Linked DNA regions of Homo sapiens: all the other regions are linked to region 1. The links come from fine-mapping of genetic effects on gene expression. A gene starts in region 1. Each other region holds a variant in brackets. All regions are shown on one strand. Distances are between the middles of the regions.

Evidence for each region. PIP is the estimated chance that this variant, and not a neighbour inherited with it, causes the effect.
Region 2: its variant is fine-mapped to the expression of FAM153A in whole blood (TOPMed, PIP above 0.99).
Region 3: its variant is fine-mapped to the expression of FAM153A in lymphoblastoid cells (GTEx, PIP 0.97).
Region 4: its variant is fine-mapped to the expression of FAM153A in whole blood (TOPMed, PIP 0.97).
Region 5: its variant is fine-mapped to the expression of FAM153A in whole blood (TOPMed, PIP above 0.99).
Region 6: its variant is fine-mapped to the expression of FAM153A in whole blood (TOPMed, PIP above 0.99).
Region 7: its variant is fine-mapped to the expression of FAM153A in whole blood (TOPMed, PIP above 0.99).

Annotation. Positions count from the first base shown.
Region 1 is chr5:177,780,581-177,784,648 of GRCh38, forward strand. FAM153A (family with sequence similarity 153 member A) reads right to left here and starts at 2,319. Exons shown (of 23, transcript NM_001413826.1): 1 at 2,163-2,319.
Region 2 is chr5:177,714,242-177,718,309 of GRCh38, forward strand. It overlaps LOC107986489 (a long non-coding RNA gene), which reads left to right. Exons shown (of 5, transcript XR_001743020.2): 3 at 2,213-2,361; 4 at 3,312-3,443. It also overlaps a transcript of FAM153A not described here. Among named protein-coding and RNA genes, the nearest start is that of FAM153A, 67 kb to the right of the region's middle. The variant A/T (reference allele first, on the strand shown) is at 2,409.
Region 3 is chr5:178,378,170-178,382,237 of GRCh38, forward strand. All of the region lies in intron 2 of COL23A1 (collagen type XXIII alpha 1 chain), which reads right to left. It also overlaps the pseudogene RN7SL646P. Among named protein-coding and RNA genes, the nearest start is that of PHYKPL, 150 kb to the left of the region's middle. RefSeq lists an enhancer at 2,268-3,074. The variant T/C (reference allele first, on the strand shown) is at 1,763.
Region 4 is chr5:177,688,194-177,692,261 of GRCh38, forward strand. The region is part of intron 1 of LOC107986489 (a long non-coding RNA gene); the gene reads left to right. Among named protein-coding and RNA genes, the nearest start is that of B4GALT7, 90 kb to the left of the region's middle. The variant A/G (reference allele first, on the strand shown) is at 1,519.
Region 5 is chr5:177,920,286-177,924,353 of GRCh38, forward strand. No RefSeq gene overlaps it. Among named protein-coding and RNA genes, the nearest start is that of PROP1, 74 kb to the right of the region's middle. The variant A/G (reference allele first, on the strand shown) is at 1,868.
Region 6 is chr5:177,838,032-177,842,099 of GRCh38, forward strand. No RefSeq gene overlaps it. Among named protein-coding and RNA genes, the nearest start is that of FAM153A, 57 kb to the left of the region's middle. The variant T/C (reference allele first, on the strand shown) is at 2,016.
Region 7 is chr5:177,648,815-177,652,882 of GRCh38, forward strand. It overlaps the pseudogene SIMC1P1. Among named protein-coding and RNA genes, the nearest start is that of B4GALT7, 51 kb to the left of the region's middle. The variant T/C (reference allele first, on the strand shown) is at 1,717.

The sequences.
Region 1 (4,068 bases):
TTGGTAAATGTGTAATCAAACTGATTCTTTTTTCCTCGCTGGCTAAAACAAAATACATCTTCGCACATCAACGTACTTCTATATCTATTGTCACCTTTGATGGTCACATATTATTGCATCCTATGGATGCAACTGAAATTTACTTATAAGATCCATTCTATGGGTTCTTTTTAAAATAAGTGCTGTGAAAAACAAAGTGCATGTATCTCTATTTCCCAAGGGTATTTTAGTATAATGGAATTGAAGGGTAACGGGCATACGCATTTTTAAAATATAGTACTTACCACCAAATTATCTATTTAAAAAGTAATCAGCAACTTAAACTTCAGGCAGCAGTATAAAAAACATCCTCACACATTGTGGATAGAAAACAGTTTCATTCCTCTTTTAATTTAAATTCTTATACCAGAAAAGCAAAGGCTTTTTTTCCTATTTACATAAGAAACTTGTAGATCTGCAAAAAAGTACTTTGCCCCCTTTTACAGTTTTTGATTATTTGATTTGAAAGAATTCCCTGTAAAATGAAGATGCACTTTTCAGGCCGGGCGCGGTGGCTCACACCTGTAATCCCAGCACTTCTGGATGGCGGCTCACTGCAAGCTCCCCCTCCCGGGTTCACAGCATTCTCCTGCCTCAGCCTCCGGAGTAGCTGGGACTATGGGCGCCCACCACCACGCCCGGCTATTTTTTTTTTTTTTTTTTTTTTTTGTATTTTTAGTACAGACAGGGTTTCACCGTGTTTGCCAGGATGGTCTCAATCTCAATCTCCTGACCTCGTGATCCGCCCACCTCGGCCTCCCAAAGTGCTGGGATTACAGGCCTGAGCCACCGCGCCCAGCCCTAAAATTTTTACAAATGTCATTACAATAGTAAAAGACAGTAGGTGTCATGCAAAAATGTTAAAACCTTGATTTTTTCATTCGGCTTATGTAAAATTGATAATCACAGAAAGAGCTCACATTTTGAGAAAAATGTGTCTTCCCATTCAGGAACACAGAACCCACCTCCCACTTCCAAGTTTCCTTCTAAGAACCTTCAGTAAAGAACCGATCTACACAGGTGGATACGGATGTAAAACGGACAGTTTTAGGTGAGAGCTTTTCGCTACTGAAAATGACTCACGGTTTTTTGTTTGTTTGTTTGTTTTTCTTTTTTGGAGACGGAGTCTCGCTCTGTCGCCCAGGCTGGAGTGCAGTGGCGCCATCTCGGCTCACTGCAAGCTGCGCCTCCCGGGTTCACGCCATTCTCCTGCCTCAGCCTCCCGAGTAGCTGGGACTACAGGCGCCCGCCACCACGCCCGGCTAATTTTTTTTTTTTTTTTTGTATTTTTAGTAGAGACGGGGTTTCACCGTGTTAGCCAGGATGGTCTCGATCTCTTGACCTGGTGATCCGCCCGCCTCGGCCTCCCAAAGTGCTGGGATTACAGGCCTGAGCCACCGCGCCCGGCCGACTCACGGTATTTTTTGATAGAGGAATGAGTTCTCTCATTAGGCACCTCCTATAATGTATATAACACCATGTTTTAAACGTGTAGGTTAAAAATAACACTGTGTATGCTTAGCTTGGTGAGTTAAATCACTCACATTCTCCACCAAGCGCTCCAGCTGGGGAATTATGGGGGATGCAGAGCAGCTGAGGCTCCGTTTGGCACCACCCCTCTGAGGGTGCCCTCTGAGGCCCCATCCCAGGGGCTGCGGGGAAGCCGGGCCTGGGGACCCCCTCCCACCCTGGGCTGAGCCCCCACCCCACTGCCTGTGCTGCCTGTCCCCGGCTTCCAGGTCTCTGCTCCTGCGCGCCAGGCAGCGCTCCACTTCCGCGGCTTCGCCCTTGACAGCGCCCTGTGGATCTTCCGATTCGGTACCCCGAACCCCTGTAGACGTGGCCTAGGGAGCCCCGGACCGCCGGCCCCTGCGGCTCCCAAAGCCGAAGAACTTCTTCAAGGTGGTGAGTTCTTCTCAGACCCCCAACCACTGGCTCCTGAGCCGCGGCAGCTCCGTGTCACCTTTTCACTCCCCCTCGCCCCACACCCAGCCCCAAATCCCCAATCCAACTCCAAATCCCCTATCCAACCCCCAATCCGCGATCCAAACCCCAATCCGTGATCCAACCCCCAATCCGTGATCCAACTCAAAATCCCCGATCCAAATCCCAATCCGCGATACCAAGTCTGCGATCTAGCCCAGAATCCGCGATCCCGCCTGGTCCACCCTTCAGCAGCGACACTGGCGGCCTCCGACCTCTCAGACCTAGTGAGCCTCGCAAAGCCGCCCGGCTCCCGGAAGCCGCAGGTGCAGGCGCCGCTGGGCTCGCGGGTTCTCCTGGGCTGGCCAGGGCTGCCCCAGGACCACGGACGGAAAATCGCAGGCGCGCGGCCCACCCCGCCTTAAGGGGAGGGCCCGCCTGGCCGTGTAGCCCGCCCCGCTCCTCCTTCCGAAGAGAGATCTGGTGCTGGCATGGGCACCCCGCGGCCACCGGAGTGGCTTCCCGGATGAGCCTGGCTTCGGCGCTGACGCTCTGGCCCTGGGGGCTGCCTGGCTGGTGTCAGGTAGCGGAAGACGCCTGGAGAGTCACTCGCTCCTTCCCCCACCCGCCCCCACCGCTGCTCGTGCCAGGACGCGCAGTTTGCAGTTGCAGCTCTGGCACTGGCGCGGGATGGCGGAGCTTCCCTTGGATGGCGTCAGGGTCACTGAGTGCACAGCCTACCTGGTCTGAGGGTCTGCTCCTCCTGGACACCTCTCCGGATCCTGATCCCTGGCGCTGGGCAATCCACAGGATGAGACTCATCGGCTGCTGGCGAAGCCGACCGCCTGACTTTGCTGCCTGGGCGGCTGGCCCCGGGATCCGCGCTGCTGGGGACGCGGGCCTGGTCTGCGGTGTCCAGCCACTTGCTGCGGGCGCGCCACGTCTAGGCTGGTGGCTGCAGCCGCAGCTCCGCGCCTGCGGGGGCTAGTGGGCCTGGTACCTGATGTCCTCAGGGTCAAGTGCATCGCTCCCCCACCTGAGGGTCTGCTCTGCCTTGACCTCCTCCAAGAGCGCAGGGGCCACCGGGGAGGCAATTTAGGAATGCCTAAATGGAAGGAACTATCCTTTCTCTGTCTTTAAGAAATAAGTGGCTTTTGTTGTTGTTTTTGTGATACCCAGCTACAGCAGAAAGCAAAGGGGATGCAGAGGTGAAGGTCCACAGCCAGTTCCTCTACTGATTCCCTCCAGGCATAAATGTTCAATCTAACGGCTTTGGTTGGCACTTTCACCTCAGCACTTACCTATGCCTACAGGTTTGTTCAATGGCAACTCTTGGATTTTGAATTAATACCCAATTATTTCATATTTTAATACCCAAACTATTTTAATAGTTTACCATATCTGCAATCCTGAATTAATTTTTTCTTTGTTTATAAAACAATCACTATAGTAAGATAAAAATCACAAAACACTTCCACATTTCATTGGGCTAAAAAAGCATTAAAACATTATACGTAAAAGATAAAAAATATATTGTTTCATCATAAAAATTATGGCTTTGCAAATTTTTTTTACCTTTAGCTACATTCTTACGATTCTTTAACTTTTCACTGTTATTTTATACATTTTTAAAACAATGCATACCAGTGTTTAAAAAACAAATGCAGCATTTCATCTAGGACTGAACATATAACGCTGGTCAGCTCTTTCAGCATGGTGCAGGTGTGGGCCTCAGGCTGCTTTCTGTTTACATGTATCAAATGACATGACCATCTTAACTGCACAGATACCATCTTCTCGGCTTCTTTCTTCTCCCCCAAAACTATTTAATGTTGCTTTAATGGCAACATCAATTTAACTAGTTTTGTAATTTCTGTATTTAATTGTCACATAACATTATATCCGTTCTTTTTTTTTTTAAAAAAAAAGGAAAGCATACAATCTTAGTTGCTAGGCCAGTTCTTCTGAATCAATTTGAAATCACCTTTTTTCTCTTTCATAATAACTACTTATTTTAATCAACAAGTCAACTATTATTAGATATTAACTTATTTTTTCTAGTTAAAATTTTGCTATCTTTCAAATAATTCCAACTCTTACACACAC
Region 2 (4,068 bases), 66 kb before region 1:
CATATCATTGCCACTTCTAGCCACAAATTAGGAGTCAGGATTAAGGAAAACTTACCTAAGTTTTCCCAGGCTATTTTAAAATTGCTTTTTTTCTACAAAAATAAGTGTTAAATTCTTCTTTTGAGGTAGTCTCAATTAAGTTGATGCTAATTGGAAAAGACTATTAGATCTTAAGCTGAACTGACAATTTTATAAAATAAATAGACTTCCTTTTCTACTATTAGAATGTTCTAATAATGAGTTCTATTATTATAGTAATACTTCTGAATTCCCTTTTAAAATATTGTTACTATCTTGGCATTTTTCAGACTTAACCTGAAAATGTTTTAAATATCAAAATAGACATATCCGAAGTTTACAACAAGGGTGTACAATCATGATGGGCACACTTCCTCAAACATGGGGGACCAACCCAACTCAGACCCATCACACCCTCAGCGTGTGGAAATGTTAAACTATACAGGAACCATGGCTGGAGACAAAAATCTGTAGGTGTCCCTGACATAAAATGCCATAGTACTTGCCTGCAGCCTGGACACACCCTCCAATATCCTTCAAATCATCTCTAGATTACCCACAATACCTAATACAATGGAAATGCAACGTAAATGGTTGTTATACTTTATTGCATAAAGAATGACAAGAAAAAAAGCTTGTACATATTCAGTACAGATGCAACCATCCTTTTTTTTCTGGAATATTTTTGATCTGAGGTTGGTAGAAAGCAAGGATGCAGGACCCACAGATAAAGAGGGCTGACTGTATTTAACACACACACACATTTTCTTTTGCCTGAGTAAAAAACAAAATTGTACTTGTAACACAGCTAAAGGATGTCAACAAAACTGTTCTTCCCAACCTCAAATTGATAGAGACGACCTTCAAAGTCCACATAGAACCTCTTATTGCCTTTTGTATTTTTAGTAGAGACAGGGTTTCACCATGTTGGCCAGGCTGGTCTCAAACTCCTGACCTTGTGATCCGTCTGCCTCAGCCTCCCAAAGTGCTGAGATTACAGGCGTGAGCCACCGCACCCGGCCATCTCTATTTCTTATACACAATAATATTATAACAAGAAAGATGTAAATTTGCTTAATATGCAGCTTCTGTTTCTGAGTTCTGTAGCTGTCACTCAATAAGATAAGAAAGCTACTGATCTCACCAAATCAAGGACACAATACTGTTCCCTCAGGTAGCACAAATTGCATGGGCTCAAAATATGGGAAAGACAATATTTTATGAAATGGTGTATTTTAAGGCTGACCTACAGATAGGAATTTTTTTTCCAATCCAAGCAATAAAGCTTTGATGTGGAGGTTCACTCCACATCCTGTCCTGATCCTCAGCTGCCAGAGGCCAGCCTGTACTTGCCTTCACACTGCGTCTTCCTTCATGGCTTCAGGCTAAGATTGCTGGGAGCCTCCTATAAATGTGGTCATCTTATGGATTAAACACTTTTTTTGTTAGTTTTTTTTGTGTTTTAGAGACAGGGCCCACTGTCATCCAGCCTGGAGTGCAGTGGTATGATCATAGCTTTCTACAACCTCTAACTCCTAAGCTCAAGTGATCCTCCCAACTCAGCCTCCTGCGCAGCTAATTTTTAAATTTTTTTTTGTAGAAACGGGGTCTTGCTATTGTTGCCTAGGCTGGTGTCAAACTCCTGGTTTATAGTAACCCTCATACCTTGGCCTCTAAAAGTGCTGGGATTACAGGAGTGAGCCATCATGCCCAGCTTAGATTAAATACTTTTTTTTTTTTTTTCAGATGGAGTCTTGCTCTGTTGCCAGGCTGGAGTGCAGTGGCGCAATCTTAGCTCACTGTAGCCCCCACCTCCCAGGTTCAAGTGATTCTCCTGCCTCAGCCTCCCGAGTAGCTGGGACTACAGGCACGTGCCACCATGCTCAGCTAATTTTCGTGTTTTTAGTAGAGATGGGGTTTCACCATGTTGGCCAGGATGGTCTTGATCTCTTGACCTCATGATCCACCCACCCCAGCCTCCCAAAGTGCTGGGATGACAGGCGTGAGCCACCATGCATGGCCCAGATTAAATACTTCTTTAGGAGATGGACTAGAAATGGGTCATCAGAAATTGTTTTTACTTACATATGAAGAATTCCAATCTTCAAAAGAATTTTAGAACTCAATCAGAACTTGAGAACTTCTTTCAGTAGGTGCTGTGATTCAATAACCAGAATTCTGCTTTACTTTATAGTTACACAAGTATTTCTGTCATTTTCCTACTAAATTACATGAAGGGGGTTGTCTGCTTATGAGCTGCACCACCGAGCAGCATGCCTATCAGCGAGAAGGTGCCTGACAATTCTCAGTTGAAATGTCCTGACCAAGTTCCCCCAGAAATTTGTGAGTATTCAACTGTATTAAAACTAAATATATTGTTTTTAATGACA[A/T]ATAGTCACTATTTAGTAAAATGATTACTGTGCTATAATAGAACAAGTCCTTAGCCCAAAATTAAATGGCCACAGATTGACATATGCATAAAGCTTATCAACTATCACATAACACATTTTAACAAAAATCAAGAGGACTAATAGATGATCTCTTCTTTTTCTTTTGTGAGACAGGGTCTTGCTCTGTCACCCAGGCTGGAGTACAGTGGCACAATCATGGTTCACTGCAGCCTCCACCTCCTGGGTCCAAATGATCCTCCAACCTCAGCCTCCCAGGTAGCTGAGGCCACAGTAGCATGCCACCATTCCCGCTTAGTGTGTGTGTGTGTGTGTGTGTGTGTGTGTGTGTGTAGAGTCTGGTCTCAAACTTCTGGGCTCAAGCAATTCTCCCTCTTTGGCCTCCCAAAATGCTAGGATTACAGGCATGAGCTAAATCGTACCAAAGAAATTATATTTTAAAAGTAAAGTCAAAGGTAGAATTTAAGAACAAAGGAATTCTATTTCTATACTTACTAGTCCCAGGTAGACAAACAACACAGCCTTCCTCAGCCTCTACCCGAGTCATTTCAGACGAGTGTGAGCCATGAGAAATCAGAGCTGTTATTTTCGGGTTGAAACTGACACTTTAGGCTACTGTTTTCATTTGCCTGTTGAAAGAATAACTTAGCTGTATTAATCATTTAAATTAAAATTAAACATTTTGAAGGGAAAACATGGGGAGTAGACAACATCTACCTTACTCAAGGAGGCAGGTAATCAATGTAAAAGGAATGAGAAAAATCACCATTGGAACCACGGGTGTAATCAATGTTTCCAAGAGGCTTCGGCAATGATGCTGAAACCAGCTCGTGAAGGTTGCCAGGGACTAAGATGTTCACAGTGCTTTGATGTCTCATCCCACAGATGACTAATAACAAAAGGGAAAAGCTACCCTCACAAGGAGATGTCCAGTTGACACTATCTCAACCAAAATTATTAAACATAGCATCAGCAATCGTGGGACAAACAGACGCAAACATCTCCTGGTGTGAGGCGGTAAGTACACAACACTGCCTAATCTGAATTAGGCATTATTCCCTGTTTAATCTGGATCCACTCATGAGAACACTGTTTAATCTGTATTCTTGCCAAAATGCTCAATCTATTCTAGTCAGGAGAAGAAAAAAGCAACCAGATATATCTAGATTATGGGTCACTCTACAAAACAAAGAGCCTAGATTTTTCAAAATGTTTCATGTATTGAAAGAACTACTCCAAAGTAAAAGAATAGAGAGACGTGACAACCAAAGGCAAGGTTAATCTTTGATTAAACTGTGGATCTAAAACAAAAATAAAGAACATTTTGGAGACAATTAGGTAAATCTGAATATGGGCTGTACATCAAATTACTGTATTATAGTTAGATGGTAGAACTGTAATTACATAGAAATATGTCATTATTCACAAGAGATAAACGCTGAAGTGTTGGGGTAAAACATCATGCTCTTTTCAACTTACTTTCAAATGATTCAGAGAAGAAAGTACTTATGGAAAGAGAAAGAAACTGCAAAAGGTGGCAAATGCTAGCCACTGGTTGATCTGAATGAAGAATATGTAGATGTCCATTGTTTTGCCTTTTAATTTTCTGTAGGCAAGGGAAAGATAGGAAGGAGGGAAGGTG
Region 3 (4,068 bases), 600 kb after region 1:
GTGAACAGCCACTGCACTCTAGCCTGGACAACATAGTGAGACCCCATCTTTTAAAAAGTAAAAAGAGCCACAGTGGTAGCTCTCCAAGGGGATAACAGGCCCCACAGAGCCCTGGGAAAATGCACATGTGCACAGACACTCAGTCTGCCCCATTTCAGGGTTTTCCTGCACCCCCTGAGGACTGCAGTCCATGCCCCACAGCAAGTGGGCCTCCTCAAGCAGGACGATACCGGTATGGGACCTGTACTTCTGCCGCTGACTGGAGGGAGTGGCAAGAAGGGCAGGGCTGGGAAGCCTAACTGGGAATTGGCATATGGGTTTTTGGTAAATCCAGTGTGATCAGAGTAGTAAAACCAGAGCTCAAGTGAGGGTTAGGGCTGGAGGTCACTAACACCAACCCAAGAGGGAGAAGGTGGCGTGGAGATGGGAGAAGTTCCCCCGCAGAGGCGACAATGAACAGAGCTGATGGGATGTGGGGTGGGGCCGGGCAGTTTGCAGGATACGCAGGGATGGAGCAGCGCTGAGTGCCCAGGGAGGTTTGGTGCCTCCTGGGAAAGGTCACCTGCCTCAGGGTGAGGAAGGACCCTCATCACCAAGGCTCAAGGACAGGGTGAATGGAGACCGCTGGCAGGTGGCAGCGGCCGCAGGACGGAAGATCCTGAGGCAGACCCAGGCTTGGCCAAGCTTGCCCAACAGGTCTGACTGAGGCTCCACACAGAGACCCCATCCTTCTCTTATTTGGAATCCCAAAAGCTCTAAGAGCCAAGAGTTTATGTTAAACTGGAGTAGTTTTCAGTTGGAGGCAAGCCAGATTGATGTGAGGCTGTTTCTAGACTTTATTTATCTCACTTGCGGGTGTGTTTATACATTTCACTGCAGAAACATTAGCCTGTCTGGTTATGGGAGCTGCCCCAGAAGGATTCTGAATTCTGCACACGTCAAGCTCAAAGGGTTTGGCTAACAGATTGTGAACCTGCACTAGAGAAATTTGATTAAATTATTGTGTATCTATGAGACAATTAAAAAAAACAAACAAACCAGAAAGCTCTCCAAGACATAGTGATCAACTAAAAAAAACCCTTATTCATTTAACCAAAACTTGAAAGGTATCTCATGAGTCAGCACTGTTGACCGTAGATGCTAGGACTGGAAAAGTGAAACAAGCAGAAAAATACTAAACAAAACTCTCTACGTGCACTGTGTACCTCTGTGTGTGTACATGCAGAGAAAGAGGCCTGGATGGACACACATGAATCTGGTAATAGTGGGACCTCTGGGCAGAGGGGTCTTGCAGGGATGAAGGCAGCCTTTGACACATTATTCTCTGTATTTTGGTACTTTTTGTATTACTTTTGTTTACAGTAAGCAAGAATTCATGTATTACCCCTGTAATTAATAGAGAAAAACCTAGAACTATAAAAATGAAAACACGCTGGGTGTGGTGGCTCACACCTGTAATCCCAGGACTTTGGGAGGCCGAGGTGGGCGGATCACCGGAGGTCGGGAGTTCGAGACCAGCCTGACCAACATGGAGAAACCTTGTCTCTACTAAAAATACAAAATGAGCTGGGCCTAGTGGTGCATGCCTGTAATCCCAGCTACTAGGGAGGTTGAGGCAGGAGAATTGCTTGAACCCAGGAGGCGGAGGTTGCGGTGAGCAGAGGTCACGCCATTGCACTCCAGCCTGGGCAACAAGAGCGAAACTCCATCTCAAAAAAAAAAAAAAGAAAAGAAAAAGAAAACAAAAACAAGGAAAAATAAC[T/C]ACCCATTTAGTTCAACCTTATTTTATAGATGAGGAAACTGAAGGTCAGGGAGGCCCCACAGCCTCAGGTTGGAGCTGGAACCAGGCTCCACAGACTTTCAGGGCTAGTTCCTGAACCGATGCTGCCTCCAACATGACCTGTGTTTTGTGAACCGTGATGATCTATACACAAAATTCTACATGTGGCCTGTTTTGCTGAAGCCCTTTTTACCACTGAGGAATGGTTTTATTTATCTGTAGAAGCCACAGACAGCAGGGTGTGGAAAGTCAATGGGTCAATTGCTGCCTAGTGTTGGAGCAGGATGAAGACCAGAACCTGCTGGGGGGGACTGCAACTCTGGGTCACAGGTGACCTAGATGAGGGGGTCCAATGTGGCACACCAAGGCGGGGCCCAGCAGTGGGATGTGGACACTCCAGTGCAGCCACGTAAAACTTATCCTTGGATTTCTAGAGCATGCATTTGTGTGTGTGTGTGTGTGTGTGTGTGTGTGTATGCTTTTTTCCTGTTTTTGTACTTCTCTCATATTTTCTTTCTTTTTCTGCTGAAGGGGAAAAGGCACTGTCACCACAGCTGCTGATCAGGAGTTCCAAGTTTTGATTTTTCAGTCGCAGTTGATTTCACTCATTATTCATTATTTTTAACAGAATGTATACATTTCTACGTGGAAATGTTTTTCAACGTTTTAAAACCAGAATGAGTGAATGGGAAGTGGCATTTGAGCCAATGAAGGAGGTGGTATGAACAGCACGGCCCTGGCTAAGAGGACGGCCGGGACAGAGGCAGGGAGGATCACGTCCGGGGCCAATGTCGGGACCAGCCGCAGTGAGAGGGAGGAGAGAAAAGGCAGGGACTTCACCTGTCCCCAGCGTCCTGCTGAGCAGGGTCACAATATGAGTGCTTTCTGCCAGGACAGCCTTCCAGGGCAGCGGGTGTGGGGACAGCTGAGGCCAAGGCTGAGCAGGGCAGGGGAGTGGGGAGGGCAGGGCAAAGACGCACCCTGGAGATGTGTGGGCCCACCCAGCCGGCAGGCACATCTAGCTAGGCCCATTCCGATCCGTGGCCAGTGCTACCAGGCAGATTTCATCGTCAAGTCCTAATTTTGCAAGTTTTCACCTGGAAAATCAAGGGGCCCTGGCCTACCTGGGCCTAGAGGGTCTGGCATGGCCACAGTCACTGAAGTGGAGTGGGGTTCTGCCACTCCCTGCCCCTCACTCATCCACTCCACCTGTGAGGATTGGTGACGTTGCCTTCAACAAATAATTAGGGGGTGGCTTACAAAGGTCCCTTCGGACTTGGGAAAGAAGAACAGTTAAGCCAGCAGCTGGCCCTCCTCAGGATGTAGGGAAGTGTGGAAGCTGCACCAGCCCAGGGGACCCTGCCGGCTCCCCTACTCCCACCTTCCACAGGGGAAGGCCAGCAAGTACGATGGCCATGGGGATGGCGAGAAGGCTGAGAAGTGCCACTCAGAGCAGAAGGTGTGTCCATGCCAGCAGGACCAGCTGCTTGGGACACCAGCACCACCGGGAGAGAGGGTCCTGCCTGTCGCTGGTCTGTGGGTGGTTTCACCTGAGCTGTGCTGTTACCATCTATCCATGCATTTGTGTTAGTGAGGACGGAATGGTATACAGAGCAGCAGGCTGTCATGCCATATGGGAATTCTGTGTCTCCGGGCCCAGGCCTAGCCACACAGAGGGTGATCTGGCCTGGAGTGGTTTTTTTTGAGACAGGGTCTTGCTGTGTCGCCTACGCTGGAGTGCAGTGGCATGATCGTGACTCCCTGCAGCCTTGAACTCCCCGGCTCAGGCAATCCTCCCGCTTCGGCCTTCTGAGTAGCTGGGAATAGAGGTGGGTGCCACCACGCCCGGCTGATTTTTAAATGCTGTGTAGAGATGGGATTTCCCTCTATTGCCCTCACTGTTCTTGAACTGCTGAGCTCAAACCATCCTTCCGCCTCGGCTTCCCAAAGTGCTGGGATTACAGGCACGAACCATCACACCCAGCATTGCCTGGAATTTTTGGATCAAATTGGCCTGTGCCCCCTCCGGTGGGAATCCTAGGCATTCTGAGGGCAGGTTAGTCTTGCCCTCGAGTCTCCATGTGAGATGGTCTGACCAACAGAGATGCCTATTTCTGGGTTTCGGTTCTCAGTCCGCACTGGAATCTTCGGGGGGAATGGGTGGGGCATTCTGGCACAGTCCCTGGGGGGCTGAGGTTTCTCAGCTGAGAGGCCGACGCTCAGAGAGGCTGGGTGTCTGCTGAGGGTCACACAAGAGTGGTGGGGGCACAGAGTCCCAGCTGCAGCTG
Region 4 (4,068 bases), 92 kb before region 1:
AAGGCCGGAGCCCACTCCCTCAGCTTGCAGGGAGGTGTGGAGGGAGAGGCGCGAGCAGGAACCGGGGCTGCGTGCGGTGCTTGCGGGCCAGCTGGAGTTCCGGGTAGGCGTGGGCTTGGCGTGCCCCGCACTTGGAGCAGCCGGCCGGCCCTGCCGGCCCCGGGCAATGAGGGACTTAGCACCCGGGCCAGCGGCTGCGGAGGGTGTACTGGGTCCCCCAGCAGTGCCAGCCCACCGGCGCTGCGCTCGATTTCTCGCCGGGCCTTAGCTGCCTTCCCGCGGGGCAGGCCTCGGGACTGCAGCCTGCCATGCCTGAGCCTTCCCCCGCCTCCGTGGGCTCCTGTGCAGCCCGAGCCTCCCCGACGAGCACTGCCCCCTGCTCCACAGCGCCCAGTCCCATCGATCACCGAAGGGCTGAGGAGTGCGAGCGCATGGCGTGGGACTGGCAGGCAGCTCCACCTGCAGCCCCAGTGCGGGATCCACTGGGTGAAGCCAGCTGGGCTCTTGAGTCTGGTGGGGACATGGAGAACCTTTATGTCTAGCTCAGGGATTGTAAATACACTAGTCGGCACTCTGTATCTAGCTACTCTGGTGGGGCCTTGGAGCACCCTGTGTCTAGCTCAGGGATTGTAAATACACCAATCGGCACTCTGTATCTAGCTCAAGGTTTGTAAACACACCAGTCACCACCCTGTGTCTAGCTCAGGGTTTATGAGTGCACCAATCGACACTCTGTATCTAGCTGCTCTGGTGGGGTCTTGGAGAACATTTATGTCTAGCTAAAGGATTGTAAATACACCAATTGGCACTCTGTATCTAGCTCAAGGTTTGTAAACACACCAATCAGCACCCTGTGTTTAGCTCAGGGTTTGTGAGTGCACCAATCGACACTCTGTATCTAGCTGCTCTGGTGGGGCCTTGGAGAACCTTTGTGTGGATACTCTGTATCTAACTAATCTGATGGAAACGTGGAGAACCTTTGTGTCTAGCTCGGGGATTGTAAATGCACCAATCAGCGCCCTGTCAAAACAGACCACTGGGCTCTACCAATCAGCAGGACGTGGGTGGGGCCAGATAAGAGAATAAAAGCAGGCTGCCCCAGCCAGCAGTGGCAACCCGCTCGGGTCCCCTTACACATTGTGGAAGCTTTGTTCTTTCACTCTTTGCTTTAAATCTTGCTGCTGCTCACTCACTCTTTGGGTCCACACTGCTTTTATGAGCTGTAACACTCACTGCAAAAGTCTGCAGCTTCACTCTTGAAGCCAGTGAGACCAGGAGCCCACCAGGGAGAAAGAGCAACTCCAGATGCGCTGCCTTAAGAGCTGTAACACTCACCGCAATGGTCTGCAGCTTCACTCCTGAGCCAGCGAGACCCCGAACCCACCAGAAGGAAGAAACTCCGAACACATCCAAATATCAGAAGGAACAAACTCCAGACGCGCCACCTTAAGAGCTGTAACATTCACCGCGAGGGTCCGCGGCTTCATTCTTGAAGTCAGTGAGACCAAGAACGCACCA[A/G]TTCTGGACACACCATCAGCAGTGTTGAGGTATGATTTACCTACCACAACCTCACCAATACTTGTCACTTTTTCTGTGAAAGGTCAGATAGTAAATATTTTAGAATTTGCAGACCACTGTGGTCTCTGTAGCAGCTACTCAATTCTGCCATGATAGTGTAAAAGCAGGCATAGACCATACATTATAAATAAATGGGAGGGCTGTATTGCAATAAAACTTTATTATACAGAAACAGGTGGTTCTGTAATTTACCAACGTCTTACCTAATTATAGCTATTCTAGTGGTAGCTCATTATGGCTTTAATTTGCATTTCTCTAATGACTAATGATGTCAAGCATCTACTCGTGTGCTCGTTAACAGTTTATATATCTTCCTCGGTGAAATGTTCAAATATTTTACCCATATTTTAATTGAATTGTTTGTGTACTTATTGCGTTATGAGAGGCCTTTATATATTCTAGATACAAGTCCTTGATCAGGTATATGATTTGCAAATATTTTTTCTAGTCTGTGATTTTTCTTTTTATTTTCTAAGTGATGTCTTCTTAAGAGCAAACATTTTTTAAATGTTTCTGCAGTTTAATTTATCAGATTTTTCTTTATGCATTAGGCTTTTGAAGGACTCTGTCTAATCTGTCATGGGTGAGCAGTAACTATCTGGGGCTGGTGGTTTGGTGGTAAAAAGAGTTTACCAAGACAGTTGCAGGTAAAGAAAGGCAGATGTATCAGAGAAAGTAGGAAGATACATTGCAAGGAAGCAACAGGCAAGTTTGCAAGAGAGAAGCTAACTACAAGGAGACAAAGACTTGCTGGGGATTTTACAGGGTGATGCTTGTGCTGTGTGCTGAAGGGGTCTTTGTGCAGTATTGATAACACCGAGGTTCCAGTGAGCTAACCTGCAGTTTTCTGTCAGCCGAGGGTCTGTTGATAGGTGCAGGAAGACTGTGAGTTATTTGCCCAAGAGGGCTACGTGTCCTGCACCATGAAGAAAGGCAAACTTACAGCTTATCTGCCTTCTCTTTTTGCTTTCCCTTAGTCCCACCAGCCTGACTCCTTTTCCCTAATTAAGACTCTACATTTTCTTGCTGACAGAGCAATAGTGACAAATCTTTGTCATGTGGGTGAAGGTCTCATCTTCCAACTGCTTCCTGCTGACCAGGGGCATAGAGGTGGCCCTACCTAGGATTACTGGCCTGTTAGGAGGTTATATGGGCCTAAACCCCGGAGTTGGGACTTGAATTGGGCGGGGTGACTGTGGGACTATGGGGGAACAGCATTTATTTAGCAGCCTAAAATTTTGTCCTGCTGTGTTTAAAGGAGAGTTAATGGAGTACCCTTAATGGCTGATACCATTGCTGCAGTAACATTTTGGTTTGAAATTGTTGTATTCTAGAAGACACAAAATGAGACATTGCATTAACAATGAATGGTACAAATGAACTGCTATGAGCATTATTACAGGTGGGAGAAGTGGGGTCTGACAGATAAAGATTTCTAAATATTAATGGGATAAGGGAAAATTGAGAAAAAGATGTAGATGTATTAGTGAGGATGAGGAGTTGTCTAGTCTTGACCCCTATTCCTATATATTCCATCCCCATTGCTGAATTGTTTATAGGCATAAAGTCATCATCATCAATCTTGCAGGCATTAACTTTGTTGTTTCCCCGCAATAGAGAAAGCCTGTGGGCGTCCACAGTGAGCTGATCAGAGTCGTCATATGGCACCTGTTCCTGGTGTACCTGATTATAGTTGAGGGCAGAATTGCAATGCACTTGTGTTAAAGCCCCTAGGAAAGGGCCGAACCCCTTGGAGTTTCTAATGCAGAGGTTTGCCTTACAGGCCATCTCTGGTGCCTTCCCGATCCACTTTGTCATGGTGGATGATTGCCATGAGGCATCCATTGGCCTAGGTCCCCCTCTTAAACCTGCGTTTTTGGTGTGTGTGTAAGTGGTGTAGTCGAATCCAGACTATTGGGCTTGTATGTTAACAATTTCTTCTATAGATAGTGCAACAGCTAGGAAGGAGTGTAATGTCATCCTCAAGTGCCTGCTTGTGTGGGCATATTCAGCAGTCAGTATTGTGTGTTACGTTAGCAACTTGAGATATTACTGGGTAGAGTGGGTGCTTGGGTGCAGCCATTTGAGGCAGTAGCTAGCTATGATAGAGTAAAAACAGAATCATATTTAAGGAAAATGACAATATATGGTAAACTTAGGAAGGCAGGAAAGAAGATGGGCTGTAAAGAGTATGAGAAAAACAGTTAAATACTAGTACTTCAGCACATTGAAGTTGTGGTGTGGGGGTAAATAACATCACTAGGACAAATATAAAGAAGTTTCATCTGGGTGATAGTTTTGGAGGTTCCTCTGCAAATAGCAATCGTGTACTATCTCCCTTATAAAAGCATTAATATCAAGAGGGTGAAGCTGCTTAACAGGCAGTTGGAGAATTACTGAGATCCTGTGGTAGAACTGAATGCAAAGAGTTCGCTTTAAGAAGAAGATTTAGCCCAGCACGGTGGCTCATGCCTGTAATTCCAGCACTTT
Region 5 (4,068 bases), 140 kb after region 1:
GTCTCTCATGAGGTTGCAATAAAGCTTCCAGCTGAAGCAGACGTCTCCAGGCTTGTTCAGTGGCTGATGTCTGGAAGCCTGAGGTTCTTTCTCCGTTGCCCGATCTAGTCTACCTGAGCATTGTCACAACGTGGCAGATGCCTTCACCAAAAGCAAAGGATCTTTGTGTGTTTGTGTGTGGTCTGTTTGTTTATTTGTTTTCTGGTCGAGGCCCTGGGGTTTGCTGAGCCTTCCCTATTATAGATGAAAAGACCAAGGCCTAATGAGGGGAAACGTCTTGCCTGAGGACACCCAGCCATTCTCTGCTTAGATGCATATGCATTATGAAACCCAAAGGTCCTCTGGCACTGTGCGCTCCAGAACAGAGCCCTCCGCAAACACTGTATTTGAGCTTCACATTTGAAATATGGATTTGAGCATTGTAATAAACAGAACAAAAACCCTTGGATATATTGCATACTAAATGTTAGCATCTGGAGATGGCCAGCACAGTTTCTTCTGCCATTAACTCAGTTGTCAGTAAGTTTGACACTGAAGTTTGTCCTGCTATCTCTGTACAAGTAAAGAGGACCCTAAAAATTGCAAGCAAAGCAAGGTTCTAAATACTGCTAGGATTTTCAACTGCTATTACTTGTTGACCTGGGATTTTCTTAATATATTTGCAACTTTAAAAAGTTTAAAAGTTTTGAAGCTTAAAGTCAGTGCTGAGGTTGAGACATGACTAAATCTGTCATCCATGATATCTAATTTCTTTGTTTGTTTGTTTGTTTTTTCAGACAGAGTCTCGTTCTGTCACCCAGCCTGGTGTGCAGTGGTTCAAGCCATTCTCCTGCCTCAGCCTCCCGAGTAGCTGGGATTACAGGCGCCCACCACCACGCCCAGCTAATTTTTGTATGTTTGGTAGAGACGGGGTTTCACCATGTTGGCCAGGCTGGTCTCAAACTCCTGACCTCAAGCGACCCACCCGCCTCGGCCTCCCAGAGTTTTGCGATTACAGGCGTGAGCCACCACGCCCAGCGGAATTTCTTATTCTTTTTGATCTATCAAAACAACCTCATTGTTCTCAATGACTGACCTTATAATAAGTAAATGTTATAGAACATACAGTGTCATTTTCCTTTTCCAGTAGAGGAAGATTACATTTCCCAGAGTTTCTTGCCTTTGAATAGAGGCCTGTGACTGGATGCTGAGGGCCCCTGGGATGTGGGCAGACATGGAGTTTGTGGCTTCTTCCCCTTACACAGAGGCCAGAGCTGTATCATGGCAGAACCACAGATGGTGGGAGGGTGGGTCTCTGGACCACTGGTTGAGGGGTAGAGAAGATCTGCTAAGAAGAGTTCCCTGACCTGCACCGAACAGTGACAGGAGCAAGAAGCAAACCTTTGTGTGTTAAGCCACTGAGATATTGGGGTTTATTTATTACAGCAGATTCTGGTCTATCCTGACTAATACTGGATCAAACAAATAACATTTTTTGCAAATCAAAACCACAATGAGATACCATCTCACGCCAGTTAGGAAGGAGGTTATTAAAAAGTCAGGAAACAACAGATGCTGGCGAGGCTTTGGAGAAATAGGAACACTTTTACGCTATTGGTGGGAGTGTAAATTAGTTCAACCATTGTGGAAGACAGTATGGTGATTCCTCAAGGATCTAGAACCAGAAATACCATTTGACCCAGCAATCCCATTACTGGGTATATACCCAAAGGATGATAAAGCATTCTACTATAAAGACACATGCACAGGTATGTTTACTGCAGCACTATTTACAATAGCAAAGACTTGGAACCAACCCAAATGCCCATCAATGATAGATTGGATAAAGAAAATGTGGCACATACACACCATGGAATACTATGCAGCC[A/G]TAAAAAATGAGTTCATGTCCTTTGCAGGGACATGGATAGAGCTGGAAACCATCATCCTCAGCAAACTTAACACAGGAACAGAAAACCAAACACCGCATGTTCTCACTCATAAGTGGGAGTTGAGCAATGAGGACACATGGACACAGGGAGGGGAACATCACACACCGGGGCCTGTTGGGGGGTGAGGGGCCAGGGGAGGGACAGCATTAGGACAAATACCTAATGCATGTGGGGCTTAAAACCTAGATGATGGGTTGATAGGTGCAGCAAACCACCATGACACATGTATACCTATGTAACAAACCTGCATGTTCTGCACATGTATCCCAGAGCGTAAAGTAAAATAAAAATTAAACACAAGTAACATTTCTAATAAAATACAGCTCTTATCTGTTCTGTGTTTTGGGTTCCATGTATTGTTTATTGAAAAGTAAAAAAGTTTTCTGCTACAAAAGGTATCAAAATCAGCAATTGAGTTTGAAGTCAGAATCTTACAGGTAGGGAACTCAAGGGCTGGAGAGGAGAAATAATTTGTCCAGGGTCACATAGCTGAGGCAGGGCTAAAATCTCGCAGAGGGACATCTATAGTTTTATCCTGTCCTTTCTTTTGGTAACAGCAGCTGAATTTCCTCATCTTCCTGCTCAGGCCACATGCTTCATATGGGACTCATTCTCATCCCTCAGCTCCAGGCCTGGTGAATCTATATCGTCTATCACCCAAGCCTCAGTGATTAGCTTGAGGATGGATGCATGACCCAGTCCAGACCAATCACAGCGAATCCCTGGGTTTTTGCTGGAGCTGCTCTCCGTGGATAGTTGAATCAATAGGATATAAGTCTGGAGCTCCTGGGTGCTATCTCAGTATCTCTAGGTTGAGAATGCAGCTAACACAGAGGAAAGCAGAGCTGAAATGTGGAGAGAGCCAGACGATGCTTGATGGTGTTTGAGCACCTGGATCCAGCCATGCCTGAAGTTGGAGCTTTTAGTTACATGAACCAATAAGTTCCCTTTTGGTTTATGTCAGTTTTGACTGGTATTCTGACCTACACATACGGTTTTGTGCTTTTTTTCACCAAGGGACAGGAATTACTGTATTTTTCTGTTTTACTGATAAGGAAATGGAGGCTCAGTCCATTTGTAATCAGATGCTTCAAGTCTCACCAGATTCAAGGCTTGATGACCTCTCTTTTGTGTTGGGAATGCCCCACACAGGAACTCTTGTTTGCTTCTGCCCCCTGCTTCCGTGCAGACACACTCTATCCTGTTTCACAAGGGGGTGGTAAACCACTACAGAGTAGGTGCTAAAACATCGCTGAAATGAAATAAGGAAAGAATACCCCTTTAAAGAAACGGTGTAAAGTGTATAATGAGGCGATTCATCAAAAAATGCAAATGACTTAGCCCTAAAAGATACCAACTTCACTAATAATTAAGAAATACAAATAAAACAGCTATCATCTTTCACTCATGAGTTTGTCAAAGAGCTAAAGGTTTCCTGACAGCTGAGGGCAGGGAAATAGTCTCTTTCCTGGGCTGAGGCAGTAGGAGGGGAAGGGGCACAGCCTCTTTGGAGGGCACTGTGGCAATGTCTGTGAAATGTAAACAGTGTACAAGCCATTTGCCCTCCAGTTGAGAATGTATTCTACAAAGAAACTCCAACAAATACGCAGAGATGCAAGTAAAAGACTGTCCAGTAGAGAATTATTTTTAATAGCCAAAACCAAAACTGAAAGAAAACAAAACAAAACTGGAAACAAATGTCCACCAAAATGGGTCTACACGAACCCCAGTACATCCAAGACATGGAAAACATTTTAGCTGCAAAAAAGAATGAGGTAGCCCCAGATGTGTGGGGGTGGAAAGGTGCCCAGGGTATACCATGTCGTTAGGGGAGAACCGGATGTGTGATATGATGCTATTTATGCTGAAAATGAAATCTTACCAGAGTTAAGATGAAGATAAGTTGTGAAGTAGAATTAGGGGGTCAGGGGACTTCGTTTTCAATGAATTAATCTTTACAATTTGATTTTTTAAAATTATGAAAATAAGCACCTTACTATTTGTTTACTCATTTGAATACCCAATAATGCACAAAAATTCAGAAGGTACAAGGTGGAGATGTATAATTCTGCAGTTCTCTCAACTATCTGATACAGAATTAATTTATTCCCGGCATGCATTTAGTGTATTTAGAAGAAGG
Region 6 (4,068 bases), 57 kb after region 1:
TTTCTGAAGCTACAATTTCTCCAATGTTTTTCATTCAAAATAATCAATATACCGATTAAGCATATTTGGGGATAGCACGTCCTTGACTCCATTAACTACCATTATGGTTTTGGGGGAAGAACCCCAGAGAGGTGAAATATTTTTATCATACCAGAGGTATGTGATTATCAGCATGACTTATCACTGATAATGTTAACCTTCCTCACTTGTTTAGGGTAATGTTTCCCAGGCTTTTCCACCATAAAGTTTGTTTTTTCCCATATTCTATACTTTGTTTGTTGGAAGCAAGTCACTAAGTCCAGCCCATCCTCAAGTGGGAGGAGAGGATTAAGCTTCACCTTCTGGTGGGTGGGTTTGGGGGTGGGAAAAGTGTTCACAGATATTAGTTGGAATTCTTCTGTAAGGAAAATTTGTTTCTTCTCCCACACTGATTTATTTAATCATCTGTTTTCATCAGTATGGACTCGCTTATATTTATTTCATACTTTGGGTTATAATCCGATGTGAAGGTCTTCAAAAAGTTCATGGAAAGTATGTATTAATATTATGAAAAAAACTATACACGGATTTCAAGCATTTTTTCACATCAAAATAAACTCATACTAACATGTTATAACATGTCTGAACAGAATCTAGTTTGAGGCACTAGGAAGGATAAGACGTCAGTTTGAAAAGAGCCCCTTTCAGAAAAACATAAATTCTGCTAAATTTGAAACAGGGACAAACATTAAATTAGTGGAACAGAAACATCAAATTGAAGCTTGGGTGGAAGAATGGTGAAATCATTGATGCTTTTTGAAACGTTTATGAGGACAATGCCCCAAAGAAATTAGCAGTTTACAAATGGATACATTGTTTTAAGAAGGGAGGAGATGAGATGATGTTTAAAATGAAGCTTGCAGTGGCAGACTATCTGCATCAATTTGCAAGAAAAAAATTCATCTTGGTTTGGCCTTAATAGAAGAGGACTGGCAATTAACAGCAAAAGCAATAGCCAGCACCATAGATATCTCAGCTGTTTCAGCTTACACAATTCTGACTGAAAAAGTTAAGAAAACTTTCTACTCGATGAGTGCCAAAACCATTGCACCCTGATCAGCTGCAGACAAGAGCAGAGATTTCCATGGAAATTTTAGACAAGTGGGATGAAGATCCTGAAGCATTTCTTCGAAGACATGTAACCGGAGATGGAACGTGGCTTCACCAGTACAATCCTGAAGACAAAGCACAATCAAAGCAATGGCCACCAAGCGGCGGAAGGGGTCTAGTCACAGCAAAAGCAGACCAGTCAAGAGCAAAGATCATGGCAACTGGTTTTTGGAGATACTCAAGGCATTTTGCTTGTTGACTTTCTGGAGGGCCAATGAACAATAATGTGCTTATTATGAGAGTGTTTTCAGAAAGTTGGCCAAAGCTTTAGCAGAAAGCTAAAAAAAAAAAAAAAAAAAAAAGCTTTAGCTCAGGAAAGCTTAACCATAGAGTCCTTCTCCACCACGACAATGCTCCTGCTCATTCCTCTCATCAAACAAGGGCAATTTTGCAAGTTTCGCTCTTGTGCAATGGCGCACTCTTGGCTCACCACAACCTCCGACTCCCAGGTTCAAGTAATTCTTCTGCCTCAGCCTCCTGAGTAGCTGGGATTACAGACATGTGCCACCATGCTCGGCTAATTTTGTATTTTTGGTAGAGTCAGGGTTTCTCCATGTTAGTCAGGCTAGTCTTGAACTCCCGACCTCAGGTCATCCATCCACCTCAGCCTCCCAAAGTGCTGGGATCACAGGCATGAGCCACTGCACCTGGCCTTGCAAATGTTTCTATTGGAAATCATTAGGCATTCACCTTACAGTTCTCATTTGGCTCCTTCTATTTTTTTTGTTTTCTAATCTTACAAAAATCTTTAAAGGGCACCCATTTTTTCTTCCATTAATAACGTAAAAAATGCTACGTTATCACAGTTGAATTCCCAGGACCCTCAGTTCTTTAAGAATGGACTAAATGGCTGGCATCATCACTTA[T/C]AAAAGTGTCTTGAACTTGATGGAGCGTCTGTTAAGAAATAAAGTTTGTATTTTTAATTTTTACCTTTCTTACTTTTTTTTTTTTTGAGACGGAGTTTTGCTCTTGTTGTCCAGGCTGGAGTGCAATGGTGCAATCTTGGCTCACTGCAACCTCTGCCTCCTAGGTTTAAGCCACTCTCCTGCCTCAGCCTCTCAAGTAGCTGGGATTACAGGCACGTGCCACCACGCCTGGCTAATTCTGTATTTTTAGTACAGAGGGGGTTTCTCCATGTTGATCAGGCTGGTCTCGAGCTCTTGACCTCAGGTATTCCGCCCACCTCTGCCTCCCAAAGTGCTGGGATTACAGGCGTGAGCCACTGTGCCCAGCCCTAATTTTTATCTTTCAATTGCGTTTTTTCCAAGAACTTTTTAAAGCCCCTCATACTACTCTGTTTATTGCTTGAATTGTTCCAGTTTTGACCATTGGTAGCTTTTTTACATTGGCTGCTGTATCTCTTTGACATGTACCCATCCTCTGTTCTGGTTTCTGTTTCTTCATTGTTGGTTTTTTTCTTTTTTTTCTTTGAGACAGAGTCTCACTCTGTCTCCCAGGCTGGAGTGCAGTGGTGCAATCTTGGCTCACTGCAACCTCCGCCTCCCAGGTTCAAGTGATTCTCCTGCCTCAGCCTCTCAAGTAACTGGGATTACAGGCACCCATCACCACGCCCAGCTAATTTTTGTATTTTTAGTAGAGATGGGGTTTCGCCATGTTGGCCACGCTGGTCTTGAACTCCTGACCTCAGGTGATCTGCTCGCCTCGGCCTCCCAGAGTGCTGGGATTACAGGCATGAGCCACTGCACCTGGCCTGTTGGTTTTTTTAGTGCTTTCTTACTTTCTTACACTACGAGATGCCCCAGGCTCATCTTACGCTTTCCCTGCCTCAGGCCTAGAATCAGCCTTTTATTCAAGGAGCCCAAACCAGTAATTTTTGACCAGCAACACAATAAACATGAAGTTCAGAGCAGCTAAAAGATGACCTGTTTGAAAATAGGCTCAGCATACAAAAATTAGCTAGGCATGGTGGCGGGCACCTGTAACTCCAGCTACTTGGAAGGCTGAGGCACAAGAACTGCTGGAACCTGGGAGATGGAGGTTGCAGTGAGCTGAGATTGTGCCACTGCACTCCAGTCTGGCTAATTAGTAAAAAAAAATTTTTTTAAGATGGAGTCTTACTATGTTGCCCAGGCTGGTCTCACACTCTTGGGCTCAAGCAGTCCTTCAACCTGGGCCTCCCAAAGTGCTGGGATTACAGACATGAGATACTGTACCCAGCCTCATTTTTTTTTGCATATGGATATCCAGTTGTTTTAGCACAATTTGTTGAAAAGATTGCTTTCTCCACTGAATTACCTTTGCACCTTTCTCAAAATTGATTGTTTGCTTCAATAGCAGTTAGCACACCTAGTACCCAGATCTTGGTTTTTAAAACCATTCTTCAGTAAAACAATCTAGAACTCCTTGAAGTGGCTGATTTTAGGACTGAGGCAGGAAATACACAAGATGAGCCTGGAACATCTTGTAGCACCAGAAAGTAAGGAAGTACTGAAGAAGGAAAACCGTATTTGATGGGGTTACATGACAGGAGCCGACTGAAAGAGCTCCCAATGGTCAAAGCTGGAACAACTGGAGCAGCAGAATAAAGAGAGTAGTATTGGATTATAACCCAGAGTATACAGTAAATATCCATGAGTTCATACTCATGGATATTTTGGTAAAAATTTCTTATGCAGTTGGAAAGAATGTGTATTCTGTTGTGTTGGGGTGGAGTATTCTATAAATGTCAGGTTAAGTTGGTTGATAATGCTGTTCAAGTATACTATATCCTACTCATTATCTGGAAGACAATGAAATCTCTGGAAGATTGGGAGAGGGAGATTGAAATCTTGTTATAATTATAAATGTGTCTATTCCTCTGTGCTGTTCTATTAGATTTTTCTTCATATATTTTGAAGCTCTGTTATTAGATGTGTTGAAGTCAGATAAAATAAAGAGATGAATCTCTAAATTTAAAAT
Region 7 (4,068 bases), 130 kb before region 1:
CACCTCTGCCATGGTTGGAAGCTTCCTGAGGTCCTCACTAGAAGCAGATGCTGGTGCCATGCTTCTTGTTCAGCCTGCAGAATTATGAGCCAAATAAACCTCTTTTCTTTATAAATGACTCAGCCTCAGGTATTCCCTTACAGCAATGCAAAATGAACTAAGACAGCTATTCTGAATCTTTTGTCCCTCCATATAAACTTTACAATCAGTTTGTTGATGTTCATAGAACAAATTGCTGGGATTTTGATTGGGATTGCATTGAATCTACCAATTAAGTCAGGAAGAATTGACATCTTGATGACATTGAGTTTTCCTATTCGCAAACATGAAATGTTTCTCCATTTATGTAGTTCTTCTTTGACACCCGTCATCACAGTTTTCTATATAAAGATTTTGTAGATATTTTGTTATATTTACGCCTATTTGTTCAATTTCTGGGAGTGCTAATGTAAATGTAAATGGTAATGTATGTTTCATTTCAAATTCCACTTTTTCATTGTTAGTATATAGGAAAGCAACTGAGTTTTGTATGTTAACCTTGTGTTCTGCAAACTCACTATAATTGCTTGTTAGTTCCAAGAGGTTTTTTTCTAGATTCTTTGAGATTTTCTACATAGACAAATCATGTCTTCAGTGAACAAAGACAATTTTATTTCTTCCTTCCCAATCCACATACTTTTTCTTTTTTTGAGACAGAGTCTCACTCTGTCACCCAGGCTGGGGCACAGTGGTGCAATCTCGGCTCATTGCAACCTCTGCTTCCTGGGTTCAAGTGATTCTTCGGCCTCAGCCTCCCAAGTAGCTAGGACTACAGGTGCTCACCACCATGCCTGGCTGATTTGTATATTTTTAGTAGAGACGAGATTTCACCGCACTGGCCAGGCTGGTCTCGAACTCCTGGCCATAAGTACTCCACCTGCCTTGGCCTCCCAAAGTGCTCAGATTACAGGCGTGATCTACCATGCCCAGCCCTGTATCTTTCTTTTCTTCTGTTTTCTTTTTTTGTCACATTAGCTAGGACTTCCAGTACAATGCTGAAAAGGAGTAGTGAGGAGACATCCTTGCCTTATCCCTGATCTTAGTAGGAATGCTTCAAGTTTTTCACCATTAGGTATGATGTTAGTGGCAGGTTTTTTGTAGATGTTCTTTCGGAAGTTGAGGAAGTTCCCCTCTATTCCTAGTTTGCTGGAAGGCTTTTTTTTTTTTAAATCATGAATGGGTGTTAAATGCTTTTTTGGCCTCTATTGAAGGGATCATGTGATTTCTCTTCTTTAGCCTACTGATGTGGTGAATTGCATTAATGGATTTAATTGATTTTCAAATGTAGAATTGACCTTGCATACCTGGGAGAAATCCTACTTGGTCACGATGTGTAATTCTTTTTGAACATTGTTGGATTTGATTTGCTAATATTTTGTTGAGGATTTTTGCATCTGTGTTCATAAAAGATATTGGTCTGTAGTTTTCTCTTATAATTTGTCTTGCTTTGGTATTAGTGTAATGTTGGTCTCATAGAGCTAGTTAGCAAGTAGTCCCTCTGCTTCTATTCTCTGAAAGATTGTTGAGAATTTATATCATTTCTTCCTTAAATATTTGTTGGAATTCACTCGCCAACCCATCTGGGCCTGGGGCTTTCTGTTTTGGAAGGTTACTAATAATTATTGATTCTATTTCTTTATTGAATATAGGTCTACTTAAATTACTTATTCATAAAAC[T/C]TTTTTTTCCCTTTTTTTTTTTGAGACAGAGTCTTGCTCTGTCACCCAGCCTGGAGTGCAGTGGCATGATCTCAGCCCACTGCAACTTCCACCTCCTGGGTTCAAGTGATTCTCCTGCCTCAGCCTCCAGAGTAGCTGGGATTACAGGTGCATGCCACCACACCTGGCTAATTTTTGTATTTTTAGTAGAGATGGGGTTTCGCCATGTTGGCCAGGCTGGTCTCAAACTCCCAGCCTCAAGTGATCCACCCGCCTCGGCCTTCCAAAGAGCTGGCTGGGAATACAGGTGTGAGCCACCGTGCCCAGCCATCATACACCTTTTATAACAAAAATTTAAATTTTAAAAAGCATTTGTTCTACCCAAATTGATCTATAAGCTTAATAATTACAAACAAAATTCCAATGGGATTTTAAAAAGTAACAGATAAGATGATTCATAACTTCATTTCAAATAGGAAAAGCAGCCGGGCGCGGTGGCTTGTGCCTGTAATCCCAGCACTTTAGGAGGCTGAGGTGGGCAGATCACTTAAGGTCAGCAGTTTGAGACCAGCCTGGCCAATATGACGAAACCCCATCTCTACTAAAAATACAAAAATTAGCTGGGCATGGTGGCGTACACCTGTAATCCCAGCTACTCAGGAAGCTGAGGCAGGAGAATCACTTGAACCCGGGAGGCAGAGGTTGCAGTGAGCTGAGGTTGTGCGACTGCACTCCAGCCTGAGTGACACAGCAAGACACCGTCTGAAAAAAAAAAGAAAAAAACAAAGAATGTTACTACTGCTGTATGTAGTTGCCACTGCTGCTGCCATCTTCACTAAATTGGAGTTCACCTGGGCCCTGCTTCTTCCTGTCACCAGCTTCTGGTAGAACCTAGGTCCCACGTCTGAGCACTAGGTGTACCAGAGCCTGGGAAAGTGAGCATCTGCCATTTCTGCTTCTTTACACAGAAGTAGATTGTATCTCTGAAGGTGGGAGTTCTGTACACTCCTAGTGTTCTGAGATTCAGAAACTAGGATGTCACAAGGAATGACATAATGTCCACAATAGTGGTATATATTAAAATAAAAAAAGACATATTACTCTTTATCCTCAAAATTCCACTGCAAGGAACTTGTCCTACAAACATTTTTTTTCCTTTTTTAACCATAAAATGCAGAGAAAAAAACCGTATTTTAATGACCATGCAAGAGGATTCATCATATCATAGTCTAACATCAAAAAAATTAAAATCAATAAGAGACTGGCTAAGTTTGGTTTTTAAAAATTTTTATTAAAATTTCTTTTTAGTTTCATAGGTTTTTGGGTAACAGGTGGTATTTGGTCACACAAGTAAGTTCTTTAGTGGTGATTTGTGAGGTTTTGGTGTACCTACCACCCAAGCAGTATACACTGAACCTAATTTGTAGTCTTTCATCCCTCGCCCCCTTCTCACCCCTTCCCTGAGTCGCCAAAGTCATTCTTATGCCTTTGCATCCTCATAGTTTAGCTCCCACTTATGAGGGAGAACATACGATGTTTGGTTTTCCATTCCTGAGTAATTATGTTTTTTTAACATTAGAATAACATGCAGCTGATAAAACGATTATTGAATGAATACTTACAATGTACCAGGCACCATGTTGTGCACTGGGAATACCATTGCAAGCAAAATGAATAATGGTCTGAATGAGGTATGAATTTTTTAAATGTCTATTACATATTTTTTAATTTTAAAATATATATACTAATTATATATAAATATATATAAATTTTAGTTTTTATTTTAATGCCTATAATATATTAAGTAATTTTAAAAAGTTAGCATGACCCCATTGGGAAAGAATTATACATTTAAATATGTTTGTGCACACACAAGGAAAATTTCTGGAGCAATACACAAAAACTGTAGTTATCTAGAGTAGAAATAGATAGGGGCAGGTTCTTACATAAGAATTTCTTACCTGTATTTACAGTTTATGATTATTATTATTTTTGAGATAGAGTCTTGCTCTGTTGCCCAGGCTGGAGTGCAGTGGCACGATTTCGGCTCACTGCAACCTCCACCTCCCAGATTCAAGTAATTGTCATGCCTCAGCCTCCAGAGTAGGTGGGACTACAGGCGCGTGCCACCACTCCCAGCTAACTTTTGTATTTTTAGTAGGGACAGGGTTTTGCCATGTTGGCCAGGCTGGTCTTGAACTCCTGACCTCAGGTGATCCGCCTGCCTCAGCCTCCCAAAGTGTTGGGATTATAGGCGTGAGCCACCACGCCTGGCCTATTTACAATTTAAAAATAATGTTTATAATTTTTTTTTCCAGATGGAGTCTCGCTCTGTCACCCAGGCTGGAGTGCAGTGGAGCCATCTTGGCTCAC